2 separate regions of the Homo sapiens genome follow, and region 2 is linked to region 1. Evidence: fine-mapped expression QTL. A gene starts in region 1. The other region holds a variant in brackets. All regions are shown on one strand. Distances are from middle to middle.

What was found. PIP is the estimated chance that this variant, and not a neighbour inherited with it, causes the effect.
Region 2: its variant is the best candidate, but not a certain one, in a credible set for the expression of KANK2 in gastroesophageal junction (GTEx, PIP 0.87).

What each region holds. Positions count from the first base shown.
Region 1 is chr19:11,195,051-11,199,355 of GRCh38, reverse strand. It overlaps KANK2 (KN motif and ankyrin repeat domains 2), which reads left to right and starts at 1,811. Exons shown (of 13, transcript NM_001136191.3): 1 at 1,811-1,871; 2 at 3,536-3,734. It overlaps DOCK6 (dedicator of cytokinesis 6), which reads left to right. Exons shown (of 48, transcript NM_020812.4): 48 at 1-61. RefSeq lists a silencer at 1,328-1,947.
Region 2 is chr19:11,167,102-11,171,101 of GRCh38, reverse strand. KANK2 (KN motif and ankyrin repeat domains 2) reads left to right here. Exons shown (of 13, transcript NM_001136191.3): 11 at 854-1,054; 12 at 1,136-1,225. Among named protein-coding and RNA genes, the nearest start is that of SPC24, 13 kb to the right of the region's middle. The variant C/G (reference allele first, on the strand shown) is at 1,595.

The DNA.
Region 1 (4,305 bases):
CCCCATCTGTGTGCACTGATGCTTCCTCCCTTTTTTAATTTAAAATGGTTTTTATAAGCAACCTGTGCCATGTGGTGCGGTCACTAGGGGCTGGGTCACATGCTCATCACATGCTCACAGTCCACTGCCCCATATCCACACATCCCTGCATCATCAATGGGGACACCAAGAACATACTGGGTGCCAGGGACATCGTGGTGACAACAGGCAAAAATTCCTGCCCTTGTGGAGCTGATGTTCTAGTAGGGAAGGCAACACACAAATAATGTCACATGCTTACCTGCAATAACAATACCTGGTTTTTGTTTGTTTGTTTTTAACAGACGCTCTCACTCAGTCCCCCAGGCTGGAATGCAGTGTCACAGTCATAGCTCACTGCAGCCTCAAACTCCGGGGCTCAAGCCTCCTGAGTAGCAGAGATTATAGGCACATGCCACTGTGCCTGGCTTTTTTTTCTTTTTCTTTTTTTTTTTTTTAGACAGAGTTTCACTCTGTCACCCAGGCTGCAGTGCAGTGGTGCAATCTCGGCTCACGGCAACCTCCACCTCCCAGATTCAAGTTATTCTCATACCTCAGCCTCCCGAGTAGCTGGGATTACAGATGTGCACCACCATGCCAGGATAGTTTTTGTATTTTTAGTAGAGAAGGGGTTTCACCATGTTGGCCAGGCTGGTCTTGAACTCCTGACCTCAGATGATCCACCCACCTCGGACTCCCAAAGTGCTGGGATTACAGGCATGAGCCATTTCTCGGCCCCAGGTGGTTTTTTGTATTTTGTTTTTTGTAGAGATGGCGTCTTACCATATTGCCAAAGCTGGTCTCCAACTCCTTGGCTCAAATAATCCGCCCACCTTGGCCTCCCAAAGTGCTACGATTACAGGCATGAGCCACTGCGCCTGGCCTAATTTTTTTTCACTTAAAAATTTTTTTGCATAGACAGGGTCTTGCTATGTTGCCCAGGCTGGTCTCGAACTCCTGAGTTCAAGCAGTCCTCTTGCCTTGGCCTCCCTAAGCACTGAGATTACAGGTGTGAGCCACCTCGCCGGCTTAATAATATTTATTAAGCCCTTGCTGAGTGGCTGGCTGTGTACTAAAAGGGCTCCCAGAAAGATCTCTGCAAAAGTAGGCCACTCCATTTATGAGAGTTTTTAACCCGAAGGGCCTCCTTCCTGATGGTTAGGCCCCTTCCTAATGGTCAGTGAATCTTCTCAACGCTCCTATCAGGTAGCTAACATGATCATCTCCATTTTACAGATGAATAAACTGAGGCACAGAGCAGCAAAAGTTTGGTGGGTCTGGGATGGGAATGCAGGTCTGGCTGGCGCCGGCGCCCAGGACTCTGCAGCCTCCCTTCTCGCGCGGCGGTCACGCCACCGTGTGCCAGGACTGCGCTGGGCCGCTTCCAGCCCTGGGCCGCCTGGGGGAGGGGTGACCTCCCGCTGCCGCGCCCGCCCCGCGCGCCCTCCCCGAGCTGGGCCCCGGCCAGCTCCACCCCCTCCCGCCGCCGAGCCGTTCCGCCCCCCGCAGCGGCCCAGGGACAGCAGGCGGTGGGGGGGAGGCCGGCAGTGGGAGGACCCTGCCTCGGGGACTTAGGGAGGAAGGAAGGACGAGGCCGGACACCCCGGCGCGCACACACACCTGCTGTCCAGGTGAGATCCAGTCTCCAACCAGCGTCTCTCCATCCCCACCCCCCACCGCGGCCGGGGCGCCCGGGCGGCTGGAGGGGGCGGTGCCGGCTGGGGGGGCGGGACCAGCCGGAGGGGGCGTGGTGCGGGCGGAGCCACCTCCGAGGGCCGGGCGCCCAGGCTGCGGCGCGCGCGAAGACGCTCGGGCGGCGGGACCCAGGGAAGGCAGCGGCCGGAGCGCGCAAGGCGAGTGGGACCCGGGGCTGGGTAGGGGTTCAAGTCTGGTTCGGGGATCGAGTGTGCACCCCCTCCACACACACCTACTACCCTACCCCCCGCCTCCAACCCTGGGACACGACCTCGCTGGTCTCAACGAGCCGCTGCCTCCAACTCCACCTTCTGTGCCCAAACTTTCCAGACTTGGAGTGTCTGTCCCCGCGTCCCTGCCCCCTCCTCGTCTTTGACCCCATACCCCCATCGATTCCTCCCAGTACCCCCCATCGATTCCTCGTGCCCTGCCCGTTTCTCCTGTCTTGGCTCCCCTCTGCCCGCTCTCCCCTGTCTCTGTCCCACTTTCTGCCTCTGTTCCTCCCCGGCTCTGCCCTCTCCCCGCACTGTCCCCCCTCGCCCTCCTCCGCGGCCATGCCCCAGACGGCGGGAAGGCGGCCGGGCGTCCGGCCGGGCTGGGCCTGGGCTTGGCGGCTGGGCCGGCGTGGGGAGCGGCAGCTGTTTGCCATTAGCCCGGGATCCCACAGGCCCCGCCCCCTCTCTGCACGGGGCGGGGTCCTTCTCGCCTCCCCCCACCCCGAGTTTGGGGCGGGAAGACCCCCCCCCACCACCACCACCGACCTCCGCGATGTGCAGGCCGGTCTTGGGTGGTGGGTTGGGGAGACCCGCGCCCCTTCCCTGCGCTCCCTACCTGTCCCCTCTTATAGGCTCCAGTCTCTCCATCTCTGTCTTATCCTGTCACCCCTTCCCCATTCCCCAGGGGTCCCATGGCGAGAGAAGGGTCTCAGCCACAGACATCCATCTCCCCCACCACACCCCCTCGTCTCCTTTCTCTTCCCCTTACTCGGGACGTGCTGGTCCTCATCGAGGGCGGTGAGATGACTGAGTACCCTCAGACCTCAGTCTCCGTATCTGGGAAACGGGTAGAGATATCTGATGTGGAGTCTGAGGGTGGTGGCTTGGTGGGCAGTGGGGGGATCCACCAGGCTTAGGTTCATGTTCAGGCCCAGCCACTTCCCCATGGCCCCAGTGACCCCGAGGAAGCCACTGTACCTTTCTGTACCCTCTGCATCCCCTGTCTGTGAAACGGGGCGATAAGTGCCCATCTCATAGAATTGTCATGACAATTAAAAGAGTTGATGTTAGGCTGGGTGCAGTGGCTCATGCCTGTAATCCCAGCACTTTGGGAGGCCAAGGCGGGCGGATCACCTGAGGTCAGGAGTTCGAGACCAGCCTGACCAACATGGAGAAACACCATCTCTACTAAAAATACAGAATTAGCTAGGCGTGGTGGCAGGTGCCTGTAATCCCAGCTACTCAGGAGGCTGAGGCAGGAGAATCGCTTGAACCTGGGAGGCAGAGGTTGCCGTGAGCTGAGATCGCGCCATTGCACTCCAGCCTGGGCGACAAGAGCAAAACTCCGTCTCAGAAAAAAAAAAAAAAAAGAGTTGATGTTAGTATTACTGTTACTATACTATTTACCCAGCAGCACCCTCACTTCCCCCACCCCCAGCCCACCCCGCTCGGCTATTCCAATCCTGCTCCAATCCCGCTTGCTCCCTGCTTCTCCATCTCTCTTTGGTGGCCAGAAAATATTTTCAATCAACTTTCTGTTGCTCAGGGGTGAGCCTCCAGGCAAATGGAAAACGGAATTTCCTGCAATTGGTGACCATGTGTTCCAGGTGTTGAAAGACAGAGAAGCGAAGACAGAGACGTGGAAAGACAGGGAGAGAGACACGGAGAGAGACGCAGAAGGACAGAGACGTGGAGAGAGACGCAGAGAGACAGAGACGTGGAGAGACACAGAGAGACGTGGAGAGACACAGAGAGACTTGGAGAGAGACAAAGCAAGACAGGACGGGAGAACAAGGACAAGCTCAGGTGCCCCTGGAGCCCCAGCCCTGCCTTCATGCCCAGCAGGTGCCCTACCTGGCCCATCCTCCCAAGGTACCTGCCGGCCCCAGCACTCAAAGGCCAGAAAGGATTTACTCTGATGGTGGGATGGGCTGGGGCCTCTGCAGCATGATGGCTGGAGGTCAGATAACAGAAAGGACCAGCCAAGTTCAGATGGGTTATATTGGGGACAAAAGAGCCCTGGCCGGCCTCCAAGGCTGAGGGGGGTTTAGTGAGAGGCTCTGACTGTCCCTCCCTTTTGCAGCCTCCAGGCGCCCCCTCTTACTTCCTCCCCTCCACCCCCAGGACTTCCTGGGCCTCCACCCGGCCCTCTATCCCTACTGCGCCCCTGGGCCCGGACGCATCCTAGGCGGGCAGGAAGTTCTGTGTAGCCCGGCAGTGAAACTGTTTATTTTTAGAGAAAATTGTTTCCATAAAGGGGAAAGGCTTCACTCCTAGCTGCCTCCCCAACTTTCCCTACCCCTTCCCCCCGACCCAGTCCAGGCCTGACCCAGCTCTCAGCTTTGGGGTCACTGGGGGTCCCCTTCGCCATGCTTTG
Region 2 (4,000 bases), 28 kb after region 1:
GCTGGGCACGATGGCTCACGCCTGTAAACCTAGGCGGGCGGATCACGAGGTGAAGAGATTGAGACCATCCTGGCCAACATGGTGAAACTCTGTCTCTACTAAAAATACAAAAATTAGCTGGGCGTAGTGGCACACGCCTGTAATCTCAGCTACTCAGGAGGCTGAGGCAGGAGAGTTGCTTGGACCCAGGAGGTGGAGGTTGCAGTGAGCCGAGATTGCGCCACTGCACTCCAGCCTGGTGACAGAGCGAGACGCCATCTCCAAAAAAAAATAATTAACCCTTTTAAAGGAACAATTAGCCTGGGCAACATGGCAAAACCCTATCTATACAAAAGATACAAAAATTAGCCAGGCATTGTGGCGCATGCCTGTAGTCTCAGCTACTCGGGAGGCTGAGGTGGGAGGATCACCTGAGCCTGGGGAGGTTGAGGCTGCAGTGAGCTGCGATCGTGCCACTGCACGCCAACCTGGGCAACAGAGCAAGACCCTGTCTCTAAAATAAAGCAAAACAAAACCAAAAGCACTACTGGCATGAAATACATTCACCCTGTTGTGCAACCAACACCTCCGTCTAGTTCCAGAACGTTCTCTTCACCCCCAAAGGAAACCTGTATCCATCATTTCCTCCGCCCCCGCTTCTCCCAGCCTCTGGCAACCACTCATCCGCTTTCTGTCTCTGTGGATTTATTACTCCCCTGGTGACGGGAGGGTTGTTTGAGATTCAGGAGGAGATCAGCAAGTTGAGGGTACATTTCACCATCAGAGTATGTGGGAGCTACAGCAGGTTCTAGACCAGGGGGTGTCCTGCCCTGGGGCCTGCATGAACCATAATCCTGTTCCTTGCCCTCCCCAGGCAGGACAGACGGCCCTGATGCTGGCCGTCAGCCACGGGCGGGTGGACGTTGTCAAAGCCCTGCTGGCCTGTGAGGCAGATGTCAACGTGCAAGATGATGACGGCTCCACGGCCCTCATGTGCGCCTGTGAGCACGGCCACAAGGAGATCGCGGGGCTGCTGCTGGCCGTGCCCAGCTGTGACATCTCACTCACAGATCGCGTGAGTCTCCAACCAGGTGCACCCCGGGGAGGGCGGGAGCACAGCATGGGGACGTCATTCATAGCACCGGATACTTTGCAGGATGGGAGCACAGCTCTGATGGTGGCCTTGGACGCAGGGCAGAGTGAGATTGCGTCCATGCTGTATTCCCGCATGAACATCAAGTGCTCGGTGAGTCTCAATCCGGCCGGGTAGGCACGGGATGGGTGGGTCTCTGAAAGGACAGAGATTTGTTGTTTTTGTTTTTGAGGCAGAGTCTCACTCTGTCGCCCAGGGTGGAGTGCGGTGGCACGATCTGGGCTCATTGCAACCTCCGCCTCCCGGCTTCAAGCCATTCTGCTGCCTCAGCCTCCTGAGTAGCTGGGATAACAGGTGTGCACCACCACACCCGGCTAATTTTTGTATTTTTAGTAGAGACGGGGTTTCACCATGATGGTCAGGCTGGTCTCAAACTCCTGACCTCGTGATCCACCTGCCTTAGCCTCCCAAAGTGCTGGGATTACAGGTATGAGCCACCATGCCTGGTCTTGTTTTTGTTTT[C/G]AGACTGGGTCTTACTCTGTCACCAAGGCTGGAGTGCAGTGGCACAATTAAAGCTCACTGCAAACTCCACTTCCTGGGCTCAAGTGATCCTTTCACCTCAGCCTCCTGAGTAGTTGGGACTACAGGCGCACGTCACCACACCTGGCTGAGTTTTTTTTGTTTTGTTTTTTGAGACAAAGTCTTGTTCTATCACCCAGGCTGGAGTACAGTGGCACAATCTTGGCTCACTGTAACCTGTATCTCCCAGGTTCGAGCAATTCTCCTGCCTCAGTCTCCAAAGTAGCTGGGATTACAGGTGCACACCACCATGCCCGGCTAATTTTTGTATTTTTAGTAGAGATGGGATTTCACTGTGTTGGCCAGGCTGGTCTTGAACTCCTGAGCTCAAGTGATCTGCCCGCCTCTGCCTCCCAAAGTGCTGGGATTACAGGCGTGAGCCACTGCACCCGGACATTTTTTAACATCTTTTGTAGAGACTGGGTCTCACTATGTTGCCCAGGCTGGTCTTGAATACCTGAGCTTAAGCCATGCTTCCTCTTCTGCCTCTGAAAGCGCTGGGATTACAGGGGTCAGCCACTGTGCCTGGCCAGAGGAGACGGATGTTTATGAAGAGCTGATTGTGCATGGGGTTCACGCTAAGGATAAAGTCAGAATATGGTCAGCTGCTTGCTGAACCTTCATAGTGCCCCAGTGAGGAAATTAGTCACAGAGAGGCTGCATGGTCATGGTTGGCATAACAGTATTCACGCCTGGGTCTGTCTGGTTCCAAATGCGTGTCTTAGTCACCATTCACTCATTTGAAAAATATTTATTGAGCGCCTGCTGCATGTTAGGCCCAGTTCTAGGTAGTCCCCAGTGGTCACAGCACTGATCAAAACAGAAAACAGTATCCACCCTTATGGAGTGAGCATTCTGGTAAGAGACACAATCAGGCTGGGCGCGGTGGCTCACGTCTGTAATCCCAGCACCTTGTGGGGCCGAGATGGAAGGATTGCTTGAACCCAAGAGTTCGAGACCAGCCTGGGCAACATAGGGAGATCCTGTCTCCCCCAAAAATACAGGTGCATGCCTGTACTCCCAGCTACTCGGGAGGCTGAGGCAGGAGGATCACCTGAACCCAGGAATTTGAGGCTGCAGTGAGCCATGGTTGCATCACTACATGGTGACAGAGTGCCGCCTTGTCTGGGAAAAAAAAAAAGAAAGAGGCCAGGCGTGGTGGCTCATGCCTGTAATCCCAGCACTTTGGGAGGCCAAGGTGGGCGGATGATTTGAGATAAGGGGTTCAAGACCAGGCTGGCCAACATGGTGAAACTCCATCTGTACTAAAAAAACAAAATATTAGCCGGGTGTGGTGGCGCATGCCTTTAATCTCAGCTATTCTGGAGGCTTAGGCGGGAGAATCACTTGAACCCAGGAGGTGGAGGTTGCAGTGAGCCAGAGATCATGACATTGGGCAACAAGAGCAAAACTCTGTCTCAAAGAAAAAAAAAAAAAAAAAAAAACAAGGACGTGGGATGGCGAGTGATGGGGAAGCTATTGGAGTCCCTCAGAGAAGAGATGACATTTGAGTCAACACCTGGAGAAGTTAGGGAGTGAATCACATGGTCTTCCGGGCAGCAGGAACAAGCAGTGCAAAGGCCCTGAGGCAGGGGTGTGTCTGACGTGTTTAAGGAGCATTCAGGCCAGACTCACTGGTTCACGCCTGTAATCCCAGCACTTTGGGATGCCATGGCGGGCAGATCACCTGAGGTCAGGAGTTCGAGACCAGCCTGGCCAACATGGTGAAGCCCTGTCTCTACTAAAAATACAAAAATTAGCTGGGTGTGGTGGTGGGCACCTGTAATCCCAGATACTCGGGAGGCTGAGGCATGAGAATTGCTTGAACCTGGGAGGCAGAGGTTGCAGTGAGCTGAGATCGCGCCACTGCACTCCAGCCTGGGTGACAGAGTGAGATTCCGCCTCAAAAAAAAAAAAAAATTAGCTGGGCCTGGTGGTGCATGCCTATAGTCCCAGCTACTCGGGAGGCTAAGGCAGGAGGATTGCTTGAGCCCAGATAGTCAAGGCTACTGTGAGCTATGATTGGACCACTATACTCCAGCCTGGCAACAGAGCAAGACCCTGTCTTTAAGCAAAAAAAAATCTAGGCCGGGCACGGTGGCTCACGCCTGTAATCTCAACACTTTGGGAGGCCAAGATGGGCGGATCACCTGAGGTCAGGAGTTTGAGACCAGACTGACCAACATGGAGAAACCCCATCTCTACTAAAAACGCAAAATTAGCCGGGCGTGGTGGCGCCTGCCTGTAATCCCAGCTACTAAGGAGGCTGAGGCAGGAGAATCACTTGAACCCAGGAGGCAGAGGTTGCAGTGAGCTGAGATCATGCCATTGCACTCCAGCCTAGGCAAC